Homo sapiens: one gene and its partners. The protein of the gene in region 1 interacts with the protein of each later gene in a pairwise test. Each region holds a gene or a part of one and is shown on either strand. Other genes may lie near its edges. The genes, in order: GLUL, TAT, RHOJ and RBBP6.

The links.
Region 2: the proteins of GLUL (region 1) and TAT interact in binary tests that used the Homo sapiens proteins (3 or more experiments, as listed by UniProt).
Region 3: the proteins of GLUL (region 1) and RHOJ interact in a protein complementation assay, tested with the Homo sapiens proteins (one study listed by IntAct).
Region 4: the proteins of GLUL (region 1) and RBBP6 interact in a two-hybrid assay, tested with the Homo sapiens proteins (one study listed by BioGRID and IntAct).

Annotation. Positions count from the first base shown.
Region 1 is NC_000001.11:182,388,754-182,396,744, reverse strand, and holds the start of GLUL (glutamine synthetase), read left to right. Parts: upstream 1-4,954; 5' UTR 4,955-5,066; intron 5,067-5,403; exon of another isoform or gene 5,404-5,570; intron 5,571-5,892; exon of another isoform or gene 5,893-6,248; intron 6,249-7,991. UniProt on the Homo sapiens protein: Glutamine synthetase that catalyzes the ATP-dependent conversion of glutamate and ammonia to glutamine.
Region 2 is NC_000016.10:71,574,076-71,581,204, forward strand, and holds the start of TAT (tyrosine aminotransferase), read right to left. Parts: upstream 3,018-7,129; 5' UTR 2,934-3,017; intron 2,353-2,933; 5' UTR 2,341-2,352; coding exon 2,106-2,340; intron 1,952-2,105; coding exon 1,847-1,951; intron 1-1,846. UniProt on the Homo sapiens protein: Transaminase involved in tyrosine breakdown. Converts tyrosine to p-hydroxyphenylpyruvate. Can catalyze the reverse reaction, using glutamic acid, with 2-oxoglutarate as cosubstrate (in vitro).
Region 3 is NC_000014.9:63,291,427-63,294,029, forward strand, and holds the end of RHOJ (rho-related GTP-binding protein RhoJ), read left to right. Parts: 3' UTR 1-2,082; downstream 2,083-2,603.
Region 4 is NC_000016.10:24,542,557-24,549,593, forward strand, and holds part of RBBP6 (E3 ubiquitin-protein ligase RBBP6), read left to right. Parts: intron 1-3,606; coding exon 3,607-3,706; intron 3,707-6,388; coding exon 6,389-6,425; coding exon of another isoform or gene 6,426-6,479; exon of another isoform or gene 6,480-6,845; intron 6,846-7,037. UniProt on the Homo sapiens protein: E3 ubiquitin-protein ligase which promotes ubiquitination of YBX1, leading to its degradation by the proteasome.

The DNA of each region.
Region 1 (7,991 bases):
TGTTTGTTTCCTGTTAAAATTTGGCGAGTCAATGTGAAATAAACAGGGATCCAAATTAACTAATGAGGTGGGAGGGGAGGGAGGAAGGGCTGTGGATCCCATTGAGGATTTCTTTGGGAATGGTACCAACTAAAGCACATACTCTGATCTAAATAATTTTTTGATCAGAATGCTAAATTCTCTAAATTTTTTAATTAGCTTCAATAATGTTCCAATCAATCTACAGAACAACGATCTGTACAGTGTAAATTGAGAATAAAGGACAAAATGTATCTAAAAAAACCCGATTCACAAAACAATGAAACTGGAGGCAGATTATCAGATGTGAAAAATGATCTCCAAAGAGTCCTTCAAAGAGAATCTTTCCTATGGTGTTGTTTTTTTCTGCTAATCTAGTTATTCACAAAGAAAATATATATTGAGTGTCTGCTATACAGAAGTCACTGGGTAAGCATACCCAGGATTGAGAGGTAAATGGTTGCTCCCTGTCCTCTGCACCTCCCTCAGTGAGGACTGTAGGAATTTCAGTATTTTAGAGATGGTGGCCCCGGAACAGATCACCCACAGACCAAAGCGACTAAAGGAAAGGGAACAGAAAAAGAACAGCACCTTGAAAGCTCATTAAGCTCTAAAATACTAACCAAACATGACTTCATCAAGTTACTATGAGTTATCTAAGCCTCAGTTCCTCATCTTTAAGATAGAATGATGTGAAGATCTAATTCTAGAATTGTATGGCTTTAATTTTCTCAATAGGACATTTTCCCCAGGTTGTTAACTAAGATGAACTTGATTCTTCCCAACTTTCCACGTAGTTTCCTGCTAGAGACATGATTCAGGGTAGAGCTCAAACAGACCCAAACCTTCCATCATAACACGCAGTTGGGGAAATGAAGTGTTCCTTGTATTTGACTGATTTCAGCACGCATCCTACAAAACTCAAATCAGGCTACAGATATGGCTGAGACGTGAATTTCCAATTTCCTGTCTTGAACTGAAGAATATCAAACAATCAAAAACTGTAAAGAACAATTCCTCCATTCTTAGTGCTAGTTATTGAACTGAAGTATAATGTAAATGTAGTCTTTCCTTCTCTAATTGTATAAAGTGAAATTTGAAAGCTTGGCCAACTACAGCTTTTCCCTAAATTATGGTTTAAGAATAATGCTATCAACTTCCAGAGCTATTTCTTTTCTTCTTCATTTTTATTATTATTATTTTGATTTGGTTTAAGATTCTACTATGGTCCATTCTTTTGGAAAGAACTGATGTTGGTTTATTACATAATAATAATTTTTAAAAGAATATTTTACAATTCTGGGTTGGGTTTCCAGGGTGTTCCCCAACCCTGAGTCTCAATTGTATCTCTTTAACATGATTTAAAGGTCTCACTGAATGCCTATTGAAATCATTCATACACAGGGAAAACTCCATTTCCTAAACAGAAAAGGTTTGGTCAATGTGAGCCCTACCCTAAATTTTGTGTCTAATGTGTATAAGGCAACCACACAGGCCCTGGGAAGGCACTCCAGATCCCCAGGTAAAGGACTTCATACTTGCAGAGTGAGAATGGATCCTTTAAAAGACAGAGAAAGGGCCGGGCACAGTGGCTCACGCCTGTAATCGCAGCACTTTGGGAGGCCGAGGCAGGCGGATCACAAGGTCAGGAGTTCAAGACAAGTCTGGCCAATATGGTGAAACCTCGTCTCTACTAAAAATACCAAAAAATTAGCTGGGTGTGGTGGCACACGCCTGTAATCCCAGCTCCTTGGGAGGCTGAGGCAGGAGAATTGCTTGAACCCGGGAGGCAGAGGTTACAGTGAGTGGAGGTTGCAGTGAGCCGAGATTGCGCCACTGCATCCAGCCTGAGCAACAGAGTAAGACTCCGTCTCAAAAAAAAAAAAAAAAAAAAAAAAAAAAAAGAGAAAAGTTGTTTCCTAATAGAGATAAGATTTGGGAGTAGAGCAAAATCCTAATACAAAGCTTTTATTTCAGGCAGCAGAACAACATTGAAGAAATACTTTTAATCTCAGGCTATTTCTGCAGATTTGGAACAAAATCTTTCCCTGTAATTGCTCTCCCACTCCACCCACCCCTTGGACATGGCAATTCTACTCTAAGAGAGAAAAATATGACTTCAAAGCACATGCAATGGAACCCCTTGTCAGCACTGATATGGTGTGTACCAAGAAACAGAAAAGTTCATGGGTTCAAGCATTCTAATGCTCTTTTTATGGTGGGGGTGAAGAATGGGGGCGGGTGGCAATTTAGGGAAGAAGGGGAAGGAGAAGAAAGGGCAGCAGACACAGCAAAGTCAAACTGGATGAAACAGGCTGTTTTACTTTTAACTTCTCTAAAAGTACAGTCTGGGTTTCTGCGGGTGAACCAGTTAAGGGTTTTCTTCTGCTTTTACTTCTCGCCTATGCTCAAGCCTCCCTGGTCAGTTCTTGGACTCATCTGCGCCCTAATTTCATCATTTTAAGTAAATGTGGGGCTGGCCAAGGAGGACAAGGCCTCTTGTTCACTCCTGAAAGAGTCAGTGGTCATGTATTATGTTCCTAACCCTTACAAAGCGTGCCCCTGGTCACATGAATGGATCAAAGCAAATCCATTTCCATTCTTGGAAAAGCAGCTCAAAGCACATGTTCTCTTGATGGTGCTGCTGTCACTTCTGTGTGGTTAACAAATATCATTTATTGAACACTCACCGTGGACACTACTGGGGGATATGACAATGAATAAACTGCTCAATGAGGTCAAGACATCTAGGAAGGGAAGCAGGCACTCAAATGGCAGAAATACCATAAGCCTGCAGAACCGCACTCACGCCTTACCATTCCGTTCTCTGTTATGTTTGTCATCCCCACCTCAGGGGCTGGTGGTGTGTGCAGCAGAGGCTCTGGCTTATGGTTCGGTAGTTTGGTATCTGGAAATGATTAATAACATCTTTTAAAATAAAAATATCACTTTTCTCCTCCTTTGCTCCCCTTCCTCGACCATTTAAACTCAAACCTTTACAGAAAGAGATGAAGACAGCTCACTGTGTTACCAAGGTTAAGTCCAGTTTGATATAATGAATGGTAAAGCATTACACTGAGTCAGAAAAGTTGTATTCAAAAGTCGCTATGGGGAAAGAAAGAATCCAATCACCTCAGATTATAGAACTTGGCCTATGATAATTATAATTGCTGTTTTCTAAACATTTACGATGCACCAAGGACTACTCAATCTCTTCTGCATGTGCTATCACAATTAATCCTTTTATGAGGTAAAAATGATTATCCCTCTTTTATTATAGACAAAGAAACAGGCTTCATGTGGCTAAGTGATTTGGCCAACACAAAGCTGGTATGAAGGGAAAGCCCAGATTTGAACCTAGGTTTACCTGACTTGCAGCCGTGCCTTTAGCCACCACAATGTAATGCTTCAAGGGGCAGCACTGAAATTTAACAAGGAATTTGTAAGGCACCTTACCCAATCCAAAATGTCACCAGTCTGAAACATCCCAAAAAACCCTGTTTGAGATGAATGCTGCATCTGTCATGTAAAAGCACTACAGTGTTATACACTCTTAAAGGAAAGGGATGTTGACCAAAGAAGCCAAGTTATGTGTGTGTGGTTGCAGGCAACATTTCTTTTCCACATTTGCGGTACAAAACATAACCAGAACAAACTTCTTCCCTTCCTCTTCCAAAGGCACTGGAAGCATAAATTCTTGCTCTTTAAACTGAAAGAAGCAATAAAATCTGGACACCATCAGGTAGATTTCAGGCACTAAAAATAGAATGATCGAGTAATAGTACGGATAGCAGTATCTACCTACCTACCTACCTACCTACCTATGTTGTGTCTCTAGGTACATTTCAATATTGTGTTCACATACACATTTTCCCAACCATCACGGCAAGCTGAGAGGAGAGGTATGTATTCCCATTTTCCAGATTAACAAGAAGCCGCACTTGATAAAGCAAAATCAGGGAGAATTCGTTAAAGGAATTTCTTGACAATCCCTGGACTTCAAAGGGGGCAAGTGAACACCTCGATTTCCTTTCAGCTGCTCCGGGGGCAGTTTGCACACAGAATTTCAAATCTAGTGGGCGGCTCCACAGGTCATTTTCGATGACCACTTTATTTTGCAGATGAGGAAACTTGGGCCCTGAAAGACCTGCCTAGGGTCTGGCCAGCAGTATGAGACAGGTCTCCAGACTTAGTTTCTACCGCCCTCCAGAATCCTCTCTGTAAAATTAGAGAAACAGCACGTTGATTTCAAATGTGAAATGGCAGAGTTCTGTTTATTTCCCCAGACCCAAGAGAGCCGGAGCGGGCGGCTCTTCCAGGCCTTGGGAACCCCGGCCTGTCCCCAGGCCCGCGCGGCACCCGCCCTAGCCCAGGCCCGCCCAAAGTTCCCTCGGGTCCCGCGCCCCGCGCTCCCTCTCAAGCTAACCCCTGCCCGCAGGAAGCGGGGCTCGGAGGCTCCCTCGCAACAAAAGGCTAAATTCGGTTTCCCTGGTTCCGCATTTCCCCAGGGAGCTCTCCTCGTAAAACTATTCCCCGTGAAGGCGGCAGGGCAGAGGTCCAGGGCGGGCTTTGCTGGGAGCCTCGGGACCCCGGGTTGGGGGCCGTGGGGCGGCACCTGGCGAGCTGGCGGGTGGGCGGCGAGCCGAGGCTTCCCGGCCTGGCGGCAACTCGCCCCTCTGCCCTCAGCCCTCCCGGCTCCGCTCCCTTCCCCCACGCCGCCCTGCCCCTCCCCCACGCCCCTTTCTCTTTCTTTCTTTCTTTCCCAGTTCGCTTGCCCCCACCCCAGCGGCGCCCGCCGGGCTCCTCGCCCAATGGCCGCGGGGCCCGGGACCGCATCAGCTGATCGGCCCGGGCTCCTGGCCGCTGGGAGCCAATCAGGGCACCGGGGGCGGCCCCGGGCCGCGGATAAAGGGTGCGGGGCTGCTGGCGGCTCTGCAGAGTCGAGAGTGGGAGAAGAGCGGAGCGTGTGAGCAGTACTGCGGCCTCCTCTCCTCTCCTAACCTCGCTCTCGCGGCCTAGCTTTACCCGCCCGCCTGCTCGGCGACCAGGTAAGCCCCCGGACGGCCCGGTGTCACGCAAGCGAGGCGCGCCGCCCCTGCTACCCCGCGAGGCGCGCCGCCCAGCCTCTTTTTTCGGCTGCCTGCCCCTCCAGTCCCAGCCCTACGCTGCGGCCTCTCCGGCCCATGCCTGAGATCCGGCATGAGTGCTCCTCCCGCGTGCTTCCGCCGCTGGTGGCTTGGACCCGTCGGGGCTGGCGCTGGTGGGGCGCGCCCTTGGCCAGGCTCTGGGAAGGGCGGGGTGAGTTGTTTTGATCTTCTTTTCACTACTTGCGGCCGAAGCGCCGCCCCTGGAGGCCGTTGGGCCGGCCTGCGCCCTGGGGCTCGCAGTGGTTTGTTTGCGCTGTGGATGGAGTGGCGGTGCGGTCCCCTGTGGAGCGCAAACAAGGCGCTTGGTTGGCGCGGGCGCCTGGCTGCCTTCCTCGTGGTGGGGCCTTCGGAGCAATCGTCCTGGTTCTGGCGATGGTTGAGACGCCTCGATTGCGGCGTGTAACGGTGAGCGTTGTTTGGGCGGCCGGCTCCCGCCTCGGGGTCCCGGGGGCCTTCCAATGTGACCGAACAATGGAGAGCCCGGGCCTCGGCGCAGTCAGTGGAGAAGCCGGTCCGGGCGGAGGCAGCAGCAGCGCGCAGTCCCTACGGCCTGCGCCCCCACCCTCCCCCGGACCCCCCAACCCCTCGGCGGCAGGGTATGGCCACCTCCGTGAGGCCCTGAGATTCGGACGGGGGCCCGAGGGGCAGGGCGCCCACTTTAGGGACATTTCAGTGGGAAGGGGCTGCTCTCAAAGTGGATAATTATAACTCCCTCGGGGGCGGGAAGCGGGGATCCTCCCCCAGCCGCAAGTCCACGAAGAAAGCAACGAATGAAAATTATGAAGACAACGAGAAGTCAGACTCCTCCGGGTCGCGCTCCAGCTGCTTCGGCTTCGTCGCCTACTCTGTGAACTCCGGGGAGAGATCTCGAGTCAAGATTAAGACCTTAACCCACCAACCTGCCTGTTCGGACACCCCCCGGGCCGGCCGCTGTCTGTCCCCTTCTCCATCGCCCTCTCCCAGAAAGCTCCGGTGCTTGGACCAGCTAGAGTCTGAGAAAGAGGAGAGGCGCGAACGCCACTCCAAAAAGAGAAGGGTTAAAGAGGGCAACCCTAACGATACGCTTGACTTTCTGTGGCTGGGGTGAGTGAGGGGGCAGGGAGGACGACCCCGGAGTTGGTGGGAGCTGCAGAAACTGCTGAAAACTTCAGAATCCATTTCCCCCACGTAAACTTGGCACCGCAGCAGCAGCAGTTGATAGAGTGGCACTAGGCTGCTGGCATGCAACTCGGCTCACGGAAAAGAGCAAGAGATCCGAAACTGAGGCTTAGGACAAAGTGTGCATGATATTGGTGGTGTAACATGTTGGAGAGGACAGCCGAGAAATTGGGTTGTAGGTTTTTTTTTTTTGTTTTCCGACAGAGTCTCTATCTGTTACCCAGGTTGGAGTGCAGTGGTGCAATCTCCCGGCTCACTGCAACCTCTGCCTCTGGGGTTCAGGCGATTCTCCTGTGTCAGCCTCCCGAGTAGCTGGGATTACAGGCGTGCACAACCACGCCCGGCTAATTTTTGTATTTTTAGTAGAGACGGGAGTTTCATCGTGTTGGCCAGGCTGGTCTCGAACTTTGTACCTCAGGTGATCTGCCCGCTTCGGTGGGTTGTAGCTTTTAGCGGGAGCTAAAGGGTTCTGGGATGGAGGTGGGAAGTAGGATTTGGCCGGCTGAGTCTTCTAGAGGCAATATTGGGGTGTTGGTCTTCCCCAAGGGGAAGGGTGGTGAGGCTGAGGGAGAAGCAGTTATGTTTTCAGCTGGGCAAACATGGACGGTTGCCCGTAGAAACTTTGCCACTGTACTTCAGAACGTTGCCCTAGTCGTTGGAGGAGAACAATGTGTTCCCTTTCTAGCCACCCTGGTCCACGGAGGGAGGAGGGAGAGAGAGAATGTTTCCTCTTCGGCTGTTGTGGCTTGAGAGTTTCTCTTCTTTCGGAGGTTTTGTGGTAGTGGCTGGCAGTTATTAGTATGCCTCATGGCTTTTAAATTTCCAGATCTTTTTGATTTAGAAGTGGAAATTTCCTAATTACTTGACAAGTCTTGTAGAATTCCATAATGTTGTGATTCTTGCCCACTATCTTAAGTGAGACTTTGCATGAGACCTATGGAAATTATGGCAGCATTCCCCTTAGAATCTGGCTTGAATCAGCTTTTGTGTAGGAAACTGCTAGCCTTCTAAAAAAATATATTGTAACCTTGTTTCATCCTCAAATCTAAATGTGTAATGAGTTTTCTTTTGGTGGGGAGGGGCGGTGGGTTTGAGTTAAGACCACAGCTAGGATGAAAGACAAAGAGAAAAACAAACTGTGGAAGCCAAGCCTGTTCTGTGGCTGGATTTTACTTATATTGGAAGAAGTTCTATGTTTTGTAAATTTGTGTATTGGTTTTGATTTGTTTCCTCTGATAGTTTAGTATTTGGATAGTTTAGTGTTAACCTCAGCTACACTGAAGGAATAGACCTTAGTCCTCACAAGTATAAGTTCTAGCTTGGAAGCCTGGGTTCTGCAGTAGCTGTGGAACTTAAGCCTGTGAGCTCAGGGATGCAGAGGCATTGAGTTACTACCAAGGGCCTGATCTTTTCTTTAGCAGGCATCTGTGTTAATTGTTTCAAAAGGTGGTGATCAGTTTTACAGCCTATTATAAAGGAGATTTTTGCCTACTATAAAACTAATCCCCCTGAAAGAGTGAGTAAACATAACTTTTTGTGTGTTGACTTCCACAAGGGAAGGAGTTGGCACTTACACTCTGACTTTTGATTCAGTCGTCCTTCTTGAGCCATTTTTGCAGGGGATCAGTTTGGAGTGGGCGTTAACAATGTTATTCTTTTTTTCTTCTC
Region 2 (7,129 bases), on another chromosome or scaffold:
ATTTAGTTCAGCTCTCAGCCATTGTGGATAAAGGAGATTCACTTCACATTTTATGTTTTACAATTTTAGTATAAGCACGAATGTATAAATGATAACAAGGAAGAGCTCCCCAAATACTCTGCACCATCTTGATTTCTGTGATTATATTTTATTCTGTGTAATACAAGGATTTCTATTATTCCCAAATCTTTTTTAGGGACTGTATTTTTTAAGAAGTTGTAATCGCCAGGCGCGGTGGCTCACGCCTGTAATCCCAGCACTTTGGGAGGCCAAGGTGGGTGGATCACCTGAGGTCGGGAGATTGAGACCAGTCTGACCAACATGGAGAAATCTCATCTCTACTAAAAATACAAAAATTAGCTGGGCATTGTGGCGCGTGCCTGTAATCCGAGCTACTCAGGAGGCTGAGACAGGAGAATCACTTGAACCCGGGAGGCGGAGGTTGCGGTGAGCCAAGATCATGCCACTGCACTCCGCCTGGGCAACAAGAGCGAAAACTTCGTCTCAAAAAAAAAAAAAAAAAAAAAAAAAGAAGTTGTAATCAGTGCATTCAATTCATGTGGTCCATTTTAAGTTTTTTATGTTATGTAATATTCTTATCAGTATTTTTGTACAAATTTTTATTTCAAATTATTTTTGTACAATATTTCCAAATGTTGGCTTACAAGCTTGAAGTATCAGCAGTTTCATGCCCATCATAATATTTTGCAAAATTTATGTTCAAAAAGACAACTTAGCAAGGCTAGAGGCACTATTTCATAATGTTTACTAATTTAATAGGTATAGATGGGTGTCTCAAAGTTATACAAATCAGCACTTCCTTAATTACTAATGAGGAAGAACACTTTTTTAGACATATATTAACACCTGTATCTCCTTTGAAATGAAATGTTCAGAACCTTTGAACATTTGTCAAATGGAGACTTGGTTTTGGTTTTTCAGGTTAAATCAGTTTCCTAATATTTGGATGTTAAAGTCATTAGAAACTTTTTTTATAACAACTTTTGGTCTTGATTTTGCTTTTATTTTTGTTGTATGAAACTTTATAAAATGTAAGTAATCAACCGAAAAACCACGAAGTCCCCGATATAACTCTTTAAAGTGTTTTTAAAATTTGATTTTATCATGAAACTGGGGTTTTATTCTGCATTAAGAATGTGTTTCTATGTACACATAAGGAAAAAAAATGTTCAATACTGAAAGTCAAGGAATCATGTACTTTACCAAAATATTCAGGGTAGAAATTTTTAATAGATGGAGAGAAACCTAAAAAGGAGTAATTTCAATCTATCAGAAACAACCTTCTATCCTTCAGTTTGACAGCCCATTTTTTGTTGTTCTTGGGTGTTTGTTTATTTGTTTGTTTAAACCCGTTAGTCATAAACGGTAACAATTGCATTTCAATGTGCTCAGGACCATAATGAAAATAGGCCTTCAATACATAGAGAAGCAGAAATGAAGCAAAGGAGCTATATACACAGAGCAATAAGTAAATCCATTTAGGACCTAGAGGCTCAGCAAACACAAAGCTCCTGCCAGACTCAAGGCCTTCAGATTAGAATTAGTAATGATAGGATAGGAGCTTTACTTGACAAATAAGTATGTTTGGGAGCCTAGAGGGGAAGTGCCCATATGTCAAAGAAAGCCAGGAAAGAAGTTGGACCTTGATGCCTTGTATTTAAGCATCCCGAGACCCGGTTCCCAAATCCAAAGGACCATGTAATCTTAGCCTCTCCTTAGGAATTGTGCATCAGGAAAGTGAAGAGGATTGCTAGACATTTAGTCCTGTTATAAGAGCACTAAAGATTTGGCAGTCACCAGGTATGGAGTCTCAGGAGGAGCTTACCGATGGATGGGGCATAGCCATTATATTTGCCCGAGTCCAGGGCATCTTTCATTGCCTGGGTAACTTCAGGGTCTGTAGGCAGGTTTCCAAACACAGTAGGGTCCCCTTTTTATGGGAGGAAAACACAAAAGGAGCCAAGAGGTTATTCTCCCATGTTCAGTACTCAGACTCACCCCCAACTGCCATCTTCTCCAACCAGCCTGTGAACATGAGAGTAGAGGAGGACAATGACAGCCCCTCAGTAGTGTCCCCAACTCACCAATGGACAGGGAAATCATGGTTTTGTTTGGATTTGGTTTCACCTTCATGTTGTCCACAATGGCTCGGATGGGGTTGAAAGTTTTCTTGGCCATGTCTGAGGGCCTCACAGACCACCTGGCCTTTCTGCCTTTCATTTTTCCCGGCACAGAGCTTCTCCCACCAACGTTGACATGCACGTCCAGAATTGAGGGGAGGTTGCCTTTGCTGCTCATCTGAATCATGTATGGGTCCATCACTAGCGAAGCCTGCGAGGGGAAAGAAGTTCCCTGTGATGTTGATAACATAGCGCTGGGGGACAGAGGAGCTACATTTGGACCTAAACATTGGGTGACTTCACTAAAAGTGTCTTTCCAAACTCTCTCTTTATTTTTTTTTCTACTTTCTGTTGTAAAGTAGCTTTACTATGAATGGGGGAGTTTTAAGAGTTTTTACTGAGATGGAAAATAAAGCAAGAACCCATTCTACTTAAGTAGGATTTGCTACACGCATCTGCAATTCCTGTCAAAGCTTAACCATGCTCTATGTGAAACCAAGAAGGAATAAGATGAAAATTGTTCATCAGTCAAAGCATAGGTTCTCCTTCCTTTCCATGCGAGCCTATCCAAGAAAATCTACCTAATGCTTCTTGTCATCTGCAGAGGACCAGGAAGAACCACTCCATCTTGTTAGAAGTTCCATGTAAATATCATTGTTAGTAAAAGTAAAACCTTATCCCATAAGCATGTTACAGCCCTAGCTGGAAAAAGAAATCAATACACCAAAAAGAAAAAAATTAACAGCTCAATCAGTCACCACTGCCTGATCAGCTTGGGCTTGAGATTTTTACCTTCCAAGTAAAGGAGAAAGCAGCCTCCAAGAAGCCAACCCCGAAAGCTCCCTTAGCTCTTCTTTGACAGGTTACAGGGGCAATGAACTCAGATGCAAATCCTAACTCCTGAAATAGTCTCCACAAATGGGCGTTGGGCTTGAAACTTTCATGCCATTGGTTGGAATGACAACTCAGCAGCCAGCTCTCCCCTCAGCTTCTTTCCTCCTCTCCCCCGTCATTGCCTCTCATCCCTAAGCCCACCTCCCACCCTCAAAGCAGGAATTTGTCCTCACTTCAAACATCTGGAATTCTCCTGTGTTAACTCTTTCTGGGCACTTGGTGAGATGGTTTGAGAACATCTACTGTCAGAAAGTACTTCTGGTTACAGTTGATAGCTTTTATTAAATTTTTTTTACAAAACAGCCTGTTAAAATTTTAACAGTACAGAAATATATAAAGTAAGAAGTGAGCATTCTTCCTTGCACCTGCTCCCTGTACACTTCATTCTCACTCCCAGGGGTAGAGGGTGGTAATGGTCAGGCTCTTTCCCTCCATTCAGAGATAGATACATTACATATAGGTGCATAGATACATAATTTCATAGATTTCAAAACACAGATAGGATCGTGCTCTACACCTTGTTTGGCAACATTTTTTTTTTAACTTCCTACATCTTGGACGCCCATCCTTGTCAGTCCACAAAGTTTTGCTCCAATCAGAACAAATTGGGCACTTAAGTTCCATTCAACAAATAGCTGAAAAGCACAGGGTGTCCAAGGCAGCTGAAACCTGTGCAGTTTTATCCTTGCACTGTGCATGAATTCTTCATTTACCTCCTATGGTTGTTGGAAGAATTTAAAATGTCAGGTGCGATCCACACAAAACAACTTTGCTAAGCAAAACACAAGGTCCACAGCCAAAATCTCAACATTCCTGTGAGCAGATGGAAAATACCACCCACTGAAGGGTTAAGAGAAGCCTCAGTGATCTCCCCAGGGCTCAGATCCTGTCTGTTTATTTGTTGGAAGACAAAGATTTTTCACATCAGTTTGTTCTTCTCCATTCACTTTTCAGGGAGTCAAGCCTCCAGTGGGGTTGAATACAGTAGTCCCCCCTTATCCACAGGGAGCACACTCCAAGACCTCCAGTGGATGCCTGAAATTATGGATGTCTGAAACCATGGGTAGTACTGAGCCCTAGGTACACTATGTTTTTTCTTATACAGTAATGGCAGGTAACGTCTATAGCATGGATACACTAGAAAAAATTATTCACGTCTTGGGCCAAGGGCATCCTTGTCATAAATGTTAGTTTACATATTTGATTATTTCCTTAAGACAGATTTCTATACAAGGACTGTGTTGCAAAGAATAAGCATTTCTCTTTTACATTTTTAGTAAATATGATATATCCTTATATAATAAATTCAAATAGAGATGTACGTGAATTAAACCCTGATCACCTTCCCTCCCTGCATTCTCATTTTATATAAAAAAATCATTTTTAGTCATTTCTTGTGTACCCTTCCAAATGTTTTCTATGTTTATTACAATACGTATAAAGCTGGTTTGGGAGTTGCTAAAAAAATGGAGAGTAAACGTGGTCTATAGTTGCACTGTCTAATATTGTAGCTACTAGTCATAAGTGGCCGTTGAATACTTGAAATGTGACTGGTCTGAATTAAGATGTGTTGTAAAATACACATCAGGTTTTGAAGACTTAGTATAAAAAAAGAATGTTAATATCTCATATAATTTTGTATGATTACATGTTTAAAGAATATTTTGGGGCTGGGCATGGTGGCTCACACCTTTGGTAATCCCAGCCTTTCGGGAGGCCAAGGTGGATGGATCACTTGAGCTAAGGAATTCAAGACCAGCTTGGGCAACATAGTGAAACCCCGTCTATACAAAAAGATACAAAAACTAGCCAGGCATGGTGGCATGAGCCTATAGTCCCAGCTACTTGGGAGGCTGAGGTAGGAAGATCACCTGAACCCAGGAGGTCAAGGCTGCAGAGAGCTGTGATCATGCCATTGCACTCCAGCCTGGGTGACAGAATGAGACCTTGCCTCAGAAAAAAAAAAAAAAAAAAATATATATATATATATATATATGTATATATATATATAAAATGTATTTTATTTTACTCAGTACACCGTATATATATAATAAAATATATAATAAAATATATGATAATAAAATACATGGTGTGCTGAGTAAAATAAAATACATTCTTAAAATTAATTTCACCTATTTGTTTTTATATCTTAAAATATTTCTATTAGGAAATTTGAAGTCACTATGTGGCTTGCATTCTGTCTATTGGACAGGGCTGTTCTGTAGCTTGCTTTTTTTAAAATCTTAATAATGTGTGGGCTGGGCGTGGCAGCTCATGCCTGTAACCCCAGCACTTTGGAGGCCAAGGCAGGCAGATCATCTGAGATCAGGAGTTCAAGACCAACCTGGCCAACATGGCAAAACCCCATCTCTACTAAAAATACAACAATTAGCCAGGCACAGTGGTGCACACCTGTAATCCCAGCAACTCAGGAGGCTGAGGCAGGAGAATCGCTTGAACCCAGGAGGTGGAGGTTGTGGTGAGCCGAGATCGTGCCACTGCACTCCAGTCTGGGCGACAGAGTGAGACTCCGTCTCAAAAAATAAAAAATAAAAATAAATAGCCTGGTGTGGTGGCTCACGCCTATAATCCCAGCACTTTGGGGTTGCTGAGGCAGGCGGATCACGAGGTCAGGAGATGGAGACCATCCTGGCTAACACCGTGAAACCCCATCTCCGCTAAAAATACAAAAGTTAGCCCAGCCTGGTGGCGGGTGCCTGTAGTCCCAGCTACTCGGGAGGCTGAGGGAGGAGAATGGCATGAATCCGGGAGGTGGAGCTTGCAGTGAACTGAGGTCGCGCCACTGCACTCCAGCCTGGGCGACAGAGCCAGACTCTGTCTCAATAAATAAATAAATAAAATAAAAAATAAAGCATATCGAATGTCCTTGTACATTCATGATTGATAGAGAACTTTTATGCATATCCTGTTATTTGAGGGATAGTTTCAATTACGGACTATACAAAGACGAAAGCAATGCAAATATGTTTAATTTGAACAACCTCTTGGAGTTCAGACTACCTGTCATGACAATATACTGTGCTTGAGAGATGACACAGGTACCTCACTGAGTGTTACTGTAGTGGTTCTCCAGGTGGACAGAGACTCAGAGGTGTTAAAAAAAATTATTCAATAACACTTGTTAAAGCATGGTAAGGCAGACTTTATTCAGGACCATTCCAATAGCTAGACGGCCCACTGCAATGGATTTTCCAGTGGGGAAGAGAAATTGGATTCAACTCCAAATATGGTGATGGCAAGTGTGGATTTATAGCCAAGGATGGAAAAAGTAAGAGGAATCATCAGGAGTAAGGGGGATTCTGCTAAACTGACCTAGAAGGCCAGTGTCAGTGTCATCCTGCTGAAGACAGGCCATGGTGACCAAACATTCCCTGGGGGACGGCAAAGAATGAGGAACCTGGTCAGATATGCAGGGTGGGAAATCTTGCCAAAATGACTCAGGGTTCTTTGCTAAAACTGGATCTTGCAAGGAAGTGCAGATGGGCTTAGAAGAAGATCCAGAAGCCTGACAAAAGTCTGGTCAATCAGAGAATCTTTGTCAGAGGTTGAGACCACTGGTCTTTAAAAGAGATCAAGTAAGAATCAGATTTTTCTCAATGTGAGAAGGCTACTATGACTGATTTCTGTCACTCAAGGTTCAGATTTTCTTTTCTTTTTTTTGAGACGGAGTCTCACCCTCCTCACCCAAGCTGGAGTGCAACGACGCTATCTCAGTTCACGGCAACCTCCGCCTCCCGGGTTCATGCCATTCTCCTGCCTCAGCCTCCCGAGTAGCTGGGACTACAGGCACACACTACCACATCCGGCTAATTTTTGTATTTTTAGTAGAGACGGGGTTTCACCATATTGGCCAGGCTGGTCTTGAACTCCTGACATCAAGTGATCCTCCCGCCTCGGCCTCCCAAAGTGCTGGGATTACAGGCGTGAGCCACTGCACCTGGCCTCAAGGTTCAGATTTTCAAGGAGACACGGATCCAACTCCCCCTCCCACATTTACACAGCCTGTAAGATTGGTGTCCTGTCTCCAACTGGACATTAAACCAGGAGACTTAGATTATTCCCTTATAGGTTGT
Region 3 (2,603 bases), on another chromosome or scaffold:
ACTTGGGACTACAATACTAACCTTTTTTTCTGAATCTGCTGTTCTACCCATGTGTCTCACATTCATTTGTATTATTTCAAGAAATGTACTAATTTCCAGTTCACTCAGGCCTTACTAATCCATACCAAATTAGCCTAAAGACAAGGCATTTTATATTCATTTCTATTTTCAGCATGTTTCTACCAAAGCTATTAGAACCAACACGTACCTCTGAATGCCCGATTATAAGAAGACATGAGAAGACTTTAAAAGTTTTGGAAATTTACAGAGCCATGATTTTTGAACCTAATTGAAAGAAAACCATCTGAATTGTTGCAGGTCCACATTTTTGCCAAAGATACACTCTATAGATGCTTAGTAGTGGCCTGATTTTTTTCCATGTATTGCCACGACAAACTAAAAATGAACTGTGTTTAAGAATGTAGTATTTCTGTTTTTCATCCAAGTTGATTGGGGGAAGAATATGGCAGGATCCATCTTTTACAGTATTTTGTATTCAGTAAAGTGGACATTCCTGCTCCTCCCTTCCCCCATTGCATGCCCTCTTCCTCCCTTGATTTCACTTTCTCTCATGCCCGGATCCTTTTATTCTCCCCAGTTATAACCCAGTTATAAAAGAAAGATCTGAGCATAAAGATACGTGTTTAAAAATAACTAAAAGTAAAGGAAAGTGCCTTAATTTTTCTATTTGCTTCAACTGAAAGTGCTTCTCAGCTCGCCCCATGTAAGTTCTCATTCCATGTAAATGACATTTTCCAGTTACAACTGGTACTGAGATTTTGCCTCTCTCTTTCCTTACTCATCCTCCCAAATGTCTTTGTGGGAGCCATATCAGTGGATACCAAGCTCTGTATCCATTTGTCCCCTGCCCTCCACAATGTGTGACATAGAACAGGGACTTTGGCCCTGGGAAAGCAAAAGCTCCCAGTAAGGAATCCTGTGCCCAATGATGTAAAACAATTCCAAACATCCAGGAATTTTTGTATCATAGAGCGAATTACTTCCTATCTTTTCATTAGAGGCTATGAGGACTTCTAATTAGTCTTAGTTGCTTATAAGTGCCCTGGAATCACCCAGGTAGGCACTTAATTTTTTTTTCAGTTGCATGAGCAAAGTGCTTCTTAGTAGTGTGAAATTACAACAACTTTAAGACTTTCCAGATTCAAGCTCCCACTGTTGGAAAAAGCCAGCCTTTCTAATCTCTTCTGCTACTGGAATAAGCACTTAAGAATTGCGTGATAGCCAGGCACCGTGGCTCATGCCTGTAATCCCAACACTTAGGGAGGCTGAGGTGGGTGGGCCGCTTGAGCTCAGGAGTTCAAGACCAGCCTGGGTAATATAGTGAGATCCTGTGTCTCTATAAAAAAATTAAAAATTAGTCAGTTGTAGTGACACATACCTGTAGTCCCAGCTACTCAGGAGGCTGAGGTGGAAGGATCACTTGAGCCCAGAAGGTAAGGCTGCAGTGAGCTGTGACTGTGCCACTACACTCCAGCCTGAGTGACAGAGAAAGAACCTGTCAAAAAAAAAAAAAAAACAACCTACATTTCAAGTACTATTTCCCTTCTCTCCCATCTAATTGCTAAAGATTTTCTTTCATACGCACACACTCCAGTGACTGGAAAAACGGGAGTTTTCAGTCAAAGCTTGACATTTAGAGAAAACAAGGACTTTCTGCCTTTATAAATGGAAATCAACTGTGTATGAACTATAACTCTGCAGAGGTTATGAATTCATCCTTTACAAACAATAATGAACTTTTAGTCCTGTAATAAATGAAATGTTATTAGGCAGCTTTGTTGCATGATTGCATAGTTATATCTTGCTAACGGGCCACTCATTTCTCACTGATGTGGATGAAAAAATGAGAGCAGTATGTTTCCAGGTGTGTGCACTCAACAGGCAAATAGCTCCCGAGGTCACCACTTCCCTAATGGGCCACAGGAAGTAAGTTGATCTTGATGGGGAGATCACGTCACCCAGAACCAGCAACTGGATAGAGACTGTTGTTAGTGTCTGGGTAGAGCACAGGCTCCCAGGGGTCTTAAGAGCTAATTACTGAATAAAACAATCTAGAACAAAGCAACCTAAATAAGTTGATGTCATTCTGCCAAATTAATCAGTTATTCCTTGTTTCACGGCAAGATCCAGTTTGTTTCACTAAAAAGTGTTTTCTGCTATAAGATTAAACTGTCTTCTGAAACCAAAGATAAGAAGAGACATAGAGGCCCGGCGCAGTGGCTCACGCCTGTAATCCCAGCACTTTGGGAGGCCAAGGCTGGCAGATCACCAGGTCAGGAGATCAAGACCATCCTGGCTAACACAGTGAAACCCCATCTCTACTAAAAATACAGAAAAAATAGCTGGGCGTGGTGGCGGGCACCTGTACTCCCAGCTACTCGGGAGGCTGAGGCAGGAGAATGGCGTGAACCCAGGAGGCGGAGCTTTCAGTGAGCCGAGACCGCACCACTGCACTCCCGCCTGGGCGAAACAGCGAGACTCTATCTCCAAAAAAAAGAAGAGACATAGAAATTTGAAGAAGGATCCTTTAATGGTCTACACCGTCTTCCAAAGTCAAGAAGTGGCAGCTGATATCCATTTGA
Region 4 (7,037 bases), on another chromosome or scaffold:
TGAGCGATTCTCATGCCTCAGCCTCCCAAGTAGCTGGGACTACAGGCATGCGCCACTACACCCAGCTAATTTTTTTTTGTATTTTTAGTAGAGATGGGGTTTTGTCTTGCTGGCCAGGCTGGTCTCGAACTCTTGGCCTCAAGTGATCCACCCACCTGGGTCTCCCAAAGGGCTGGGATTACAGGCATGTGAATGCAACTTTAGACTGGGTAAGTTATAGTTAAAAGAATCCTGTCCGGAAATTTAAGAGTTTTGTGACTTTGTGTAACCAATTTTTTTTTCCTAGCCCAGGAAATAAATGATACGTAATTCAAACCCAGAAAGCCAGGAATGTGTTTTTGCCCAGCACATTTTCTTTTTTATATTTATGTGAACTGCCCTTTATTGGAGAAAGCTTTGATGTTCGGTTTGTTAAGAAAAGGGAGCTTTGAGGGAGAAAATGTGTATTTTATGCAGTCCTCAAATTAAGAGAGAAAGAGATATTGATGGTAGCTACTTAACTAGTTTTATGGGAAATAGTATCCAATGTCACAAGGCAGTTGAGTAGAATGCCATTTGGTTTTAGCACCGATATTCAACATATTTACTAAAGAAAACTATGGTAATCTTTTTATCACAGTTAAGGTCCAGTTTCTTAATTTCATTCTTATAATTTTAAAATCCCTAATCTACCATGTTTCTGTAAAACATTTCCTTACAGTTTTGGAATTATGTGCATGTTTAGGTCCCTTAAATCTTTTTTTTTTTTTTTTTTGGAGACACATCCTCACAGGCTAGAGTATAATGGCACAATTTTGGCTCATTGCAGCTTCAACCTACCAGGCCCAGGTGATCCTCCCACCTCAGCCTCCCAAGTAGCTGGACTACAGCCACACACCACCATGCCTGGCTAATTTATTGTAATTTTTTTTTATTTTATTTTGGTAGAGATGGGGATTTTGCCATGTTGCCCAGGCTGGTCTCCTGAGCCCAAGTGTTCTCCTGCCTTGGCCTCCCAAGGCCATCCCAAAGTGCTGGGATTATAGGCTTGAGCCACTGTGCCTGGCATAGGACCCTTAAATCTTGATAAGACTGAAACGCTTGGGTCAGAATTCCATGGATTTTAGACAAGAATCCTGCTTGTTTCTAGACTGTATTTCAAAATGAATATCAAGTAATCTTTGTTATATATGAGAAACTTTTCTGCACACCGACCCCTAAAAAACAAAACATCCTTCGTTCTGAAATTAAAGTGTGAGAGGTTTGGAAGCTGAATATGAAGTGTTTATAAATGACCCTTGTCACCTTTCTTACTCTCCATTTCTCGGATTCATTCTGTTTTTCATTTCATCCATGCCTTTCATGTCTGGGGTCAAAAAAACTGGCAAGCAGAAAGGGTCTTTTGAAGCCAACAGACTACTTGTTAAGGAGGTATTTTAAATGAAATACCCCCAAAGTGTCTTTATTACCCCTAGAAAGATACTTTGAGGGGTAAGAAATCATTGTAATTCAGGTATTTAAAAAGTCAGTTAGAACATCTGTTTTGAAGGGCATTGAGGCACCTTTTAGTTTGACACAGTACGGTGCTAATCAAATTAATAAGCTGTCTTGGAAAGCTCTTGTGAGTGCATTGAGTTGTTACATATTCAGAAACTTCCTGTCAGGTGTTTGACACAAAGTTTTATTTCTAGAATTAACTTTTAAAAAAATCTAGTCACCCCATGCTCTCAGTTTTTCTGACTCAAAGCTTCCTCGGAATTTGGGGCTATCATGAACTGTCCAAGATAAAGATTATAGTCCTACATTGGCATGCCTAAATCTAGGAAATTGCCTACCTCTAATTGAATGCCTGTGAGATAGTGCCTTCTACTTGAAGTATATAGAAAATAACCCTTGCCTGAACAATTTCATTTCTAACAATACTATTAGCATTATGACTAAAAATAATTAATATACATTAAAAGCCGAATATGCCTACATATGTGGTAAGCGTAATAATCGGAAGAACAGAGATAGTCACTTTGTGCAGAGTAACTTTAAGTGAAGCAAGTAAACTTAATGACAATAAAAAGGCCTGGTTGTGTGATTAAAGGAGATGGATACATTTTTGCATCTCTAGGTAATTTTTCTTTTTGGTAATTTTACAGATTCTTTCTGTAGCAAATCTTTTTACCATAGTTAAGGTCCATTTTCTTAATTTCATTCTTATACAAGTATTGCAAATAGCCCAAGGAGTGTAAAAATAGGATCCATTCTTCTCCCTCTTGGTTTTCCCAGAAGGTGACATCACTGTTTATCCGATGACTGAAGCCAGGAACCCAGGGATTCCTCTGGCCTGATTCCTCTTTCTTCTTCATTTCCTTCATCTCCCCCATATTCGGTCCATCAGCAAGCTTTGTCAATCCTACCTGCAAACATTCTGTCTTTATTTCTCACATCATAACACAGGTCGTCATTATCTCTACCTGGATTTTTTAGCAGCCTGGTTATTAGTCCCCTGGTTTCTACTCTTGTTCTCCTACAGTTTGTGCTCCACATTGGTGCCACAGTAGTCTTTTTTTGAGACAGAGTCTTGCTCTGTCACCAGGCTGGAGTGCAGTGGCGCGATCTCGGCTCACTGCAGCCTCCCAGGTTCATGCCATTCTCCTGCCTCAGCCTCCTGAGTAGCTGGGACTACAGGCGCCCACCACCAAACCTTCCTAATTTTTTTGTATTTTTAGTAGAGATGGGGTTTCACCGTGTTAGCCAGGATGGTCTTAATCTCCTGACCTCGTGATCCGCCCCCCTCAGCCTCCCAAAATGCTGGTATTACAGGCGTGAACCACCGCGCCTGGCCAGTAGTCTTTTTTTCTTTAACAAAAAGCAAATAATCACTTTGCTTAAAATCCTTCAGTGTCTTCCTGTTGCACTTCAAAACAAAATATAAATCAGTGTATGGTCTATACCTTTCTGTCATTCTTTTCTTTTATTTTCTTAGGCTCTTCAAGCCGTTTCGTATCATTTTTCTACATGCTTTTTTTATCCTTTGCCTGAAATAGTCCTCAACCAGTTTTTTTCCTGTATCTGGCTGGGTTCTCAGTCTTTAAGTATCCAGTAGAAGTTCCTCCAAGGGGCTTTCTTGGAATCAACATTCTATCTGAAGTTGTATTCCACTATTCATTCCTTATTAGAAAACCATTTTCTCTTTATTCATAACGTCATAATTTAATTTTTAGTCTATCTTCCTCAGTAATAATTTCTGTGAATGCAGGGATTGTAATACTCAACTAACGTTTAGGGACTAGGAGAGACAGAATATCTTCATTCCGAATAACGGCTTTTTCACCATTCACATGTTCAGCATTTCAGACTAAACTAAAGAATGACGGTGTTACTGAGATTTGGAGTTCCACAAAAGTAGAAGTGCTAGAGCCAAGAACCTGCTGATGATATTGGTTGTCCTTTGAAAAGAAGCCCTCTTAGGGCTTTGGATGTTTGTTCTGACAATATCAGTAATCTAGTTGCAAGGAACTTGTAGTTATTATATTTAAAGTCATTTCCCATGAAATTTATATTTGAAGTTTTCTAATTCTTGGTTACGCACTCAAATCCCCAAATGGAAATTCAATTCTGTCTTTTTATTTACAGAATATACTGATGATAATGCTCTGATTCCTAAGAATTCTTCTGTAATTGTTAGAAGAATTCCTATTGGAGGTGTTAAATCTACAAGCAAGACATATGTTATGTAAGTATCAAATCTCATGTATTTCTCAAAATAGACTTTTTTTAGTTTTTTTAATTTTGTGAGAAAAAACTGTATTTTAGAACTGAACTCATTACTTTAACCTTAATGAATACATCTTCTCAAGACTGTGAGGATAGTAGGTTTCTTTGTTCGTTTGTTTTTGATTTCCTCCCCCAGTTAAATTGACTTAGCCTGTTGTGAGAGGGCCATTATTAGGAAAAATTTTTCTCCATATGGCCAGTATTTACAGATACAAGAAAGTGATATTCACATTATTTCTGTGCCTTTCTTTGACTACTTTTTTTTGTGGGGGTTCCTTCAGTTTTCTTCACTACAAAAATTTGGTGTTGTAGACATCGGTCCTAAATATTTTGACAGCATCAAGAGTATTCAGTAATGCTAACATTTACTCTTTATCAATAAGGGGCTTTGGCTGAGAGGCATAAAGTATATAGGATTTATAATCATGGGCACTGAAATCAGGCTTAGATTTGACTCCATTTACTGCTTCATACCAGTTGTGTGACTTTGGACCTTGGGTAAGTCTCTGTGCCTCAGATTCCTCAAAAATAAAATAGGGACGTGAGTACTTAACTCTAGAGGGTTGTAAGAATTAAATAGTGTCTGGCACATGCTAAATGCACATTATTGGAGTAGGAAGAGAGCAGTCTCACAACTAGTCCGGAGCTGGTATTCACTAACCTGGGGCAGGATTAAAACCTTATATCCTTAACTTTCTCTGCTTTCTTGCAATTTCAGTAGTGATAGCAGAACTATAATATGTGAAAAGGGCAGCAACATAGGTTATTTAAAGAGTAGTGATTTTCACTTAGAATTAGGTAGTATTGTTTGAAATTGGAACAAATTATTTTGAGTCAATGAAAAATTCTAGAATTTGCCAGTGCTAGGGAATGGAAAGTGTTCTTGAAATTAAGGTAAAAATAAAGTCATTTCTTGGAGCTTTACCTCATATGGGCAAGTATTCTAAGATTTTTCTCATTAGTTTGTTGTAAAGTTATATTCCATATCTTAACACTTAGAGGTCCTTTTGTGCAGTATCTTCCATATAATAGCTACTTTAAAAAGCTGAATACTTTCCTTGTTGTAATTGCCAAGTGAACTTTTAATGGTGTGTGTTCTTAACTTTAAATGATTCTAAGAATTATATATATATGTGTGTATATATATATATTGTTTTGTTTTGTTTTGTTTTTTCCTGAGATGGAGTCTCACTCTGTTGCCCAGCCTGGAGTGCAGTGGCACAATCTTGGCTCACTGTAGCCTCCGGGCTCAAGCGATTCTCCTGCCTCAGCCTCCCAAGTAGCCAGGATTATGGGTGCCCACCACCAAGCCTGGCCAATTTTTGGATTTTTAGTAGAGACTGGGTTTCACCATGTTGGCCCGGCTGGTTTCAAACTCCTGACCTCAGGTGATCCACCCAACTTGGCCTCCCAAAGTACTGAGATTACAGGCGTGAGCCACCGCACCCAGCCTAAGAATTATAAATTTATGGGGAGAATTAATTCCTACAATCCAGTGTGAAATTTTACTTTAATTTACCAAGTGCTTTTTAAAAAATGGCAAATGTATTTTCTGTAGATTTTTTGATAGAAACTCTTAAGAATTATTTGAAGTACATGGCAAAATAAGTTGCCTCTTACACAGAATTATATGTTAATGTACAATATATAGGGTTCTGTTTGTAATAAATTTGCCTCATAAAATGCATCTCAGTTTTTTTTTGAGCAAATACTAGAAAATCAAAGCTCAGTTTTTTTTTTATCTCAAATTCCAAATTATACACACACCTAGAAACTCCTGTTAGATGCTAACATTTCTCTATAGTCAAGATACCTTAAACTTTAAGCATTAAAAGGCTATAATCTAGCAACTCAACTTCTTCCCCTTTCCTGTGTGGATTAAAATAATTTCTTTTGGGGTTTATGTCTTTTAAACATCAAATTGTCCAGTTCTACACAGCCATTTAAGTCAGTTCTTTTAACTAAAATACTCTGATTATATTGTGTTTTTCTGGGAGTGAGAATTTTTGTTCAGTTTTTTTTTTTTTTCTGTTTTTAAGAGATGGGGTCACTATGTTACAGCCCAGGTTAGTCTCAAACTCCTGGGCTCAAGTGATCCTCTCACCTTGGCCTCTTGTTCAATCCTTGATTGTTGTTTTGAGACATTTGAAAAATGAAAATAGCTATCAGCCTGGCCCTCCAGATTTGAAAATTAGTTTTGGGAGCACAGCAATTTCTCAGGGATTCAAATTACAAATGTTAACAACAGCAGTCTTCCTGATGTGTGAAAATTTACGCATTCAGAAACTGGGAAATTATATAATTTAAAATTTTCAGTTTATTAAGAATAAACTACGTTTCTAAACATAAAATCCCTATACTACCTTTCAGAAAACATTTGTTTTAAGTGGCAGGGTACACCTATTTTTGAATTCCCTAGTATGGAATTTTTTTCCAAACCACAAATCTATCTTAAAACTGCTCAAAGGTGGTAAAGATTAATCAGAGTAATTTATTCATTCAGAAATTGGCTGTTAAATATTTATACCAAAGGAAAATTAGGTTCCTAAAAATGTATTATTGAAGATAATGTGTTAAAATTTATTAGCACAAAAATTCATAAATAGCTAATGTTAATTTTTGTTTTTATTTTGTGTTTTAGAAGTCGAACTGAACCAGCGATGGCAACTACAAAAGCAGTATGTAAAAACACAATCTCACACTTTTTCTACACATTGCTTTTACCTTTATAATGTAGCAGTGAAGTAAATCATTTTAGAACTTAATATCCAACTGATCATAGTACATATTGTAAATAAAATGTATTTTGATGACAGCTCAGTTGAATATGGATAATATGTGGCATCACTTGCACACTTATTTTGTAGAAATGGGTAATTTGTGCCCGTAACACTGTTTCATATTAAATATGATAGCATTATCCCTGTATGACACTGTGTTGTACAGTTAATGTATGATCCTTTTTAGATCGTTTAGGTTTTACACTAAGGAACATGATGACATGTTCTACATTTGTCTGTCTATAGTTAGTATTTTGTATGTATGTACAGGCTGTTGTGTGCTTTTTGTTTCTTGCAATAAAAAATGTTTGGAGTGTATATTTTGCCATTTTCACGTTGTATCACTTAGTTTTTGTTAGTTTTTTTTTTCCTGCCTGATTTATGGCTTCCAAAAACGCATTAGCAACATGCAAAGCTTATATTAAAGTTTGATGCTTTCTCCAAGTTCAAACACATCATAGAAAAGAGCTTTCCAGAGACCATTGATGCAGCTTTATTATTTAGTCTTGC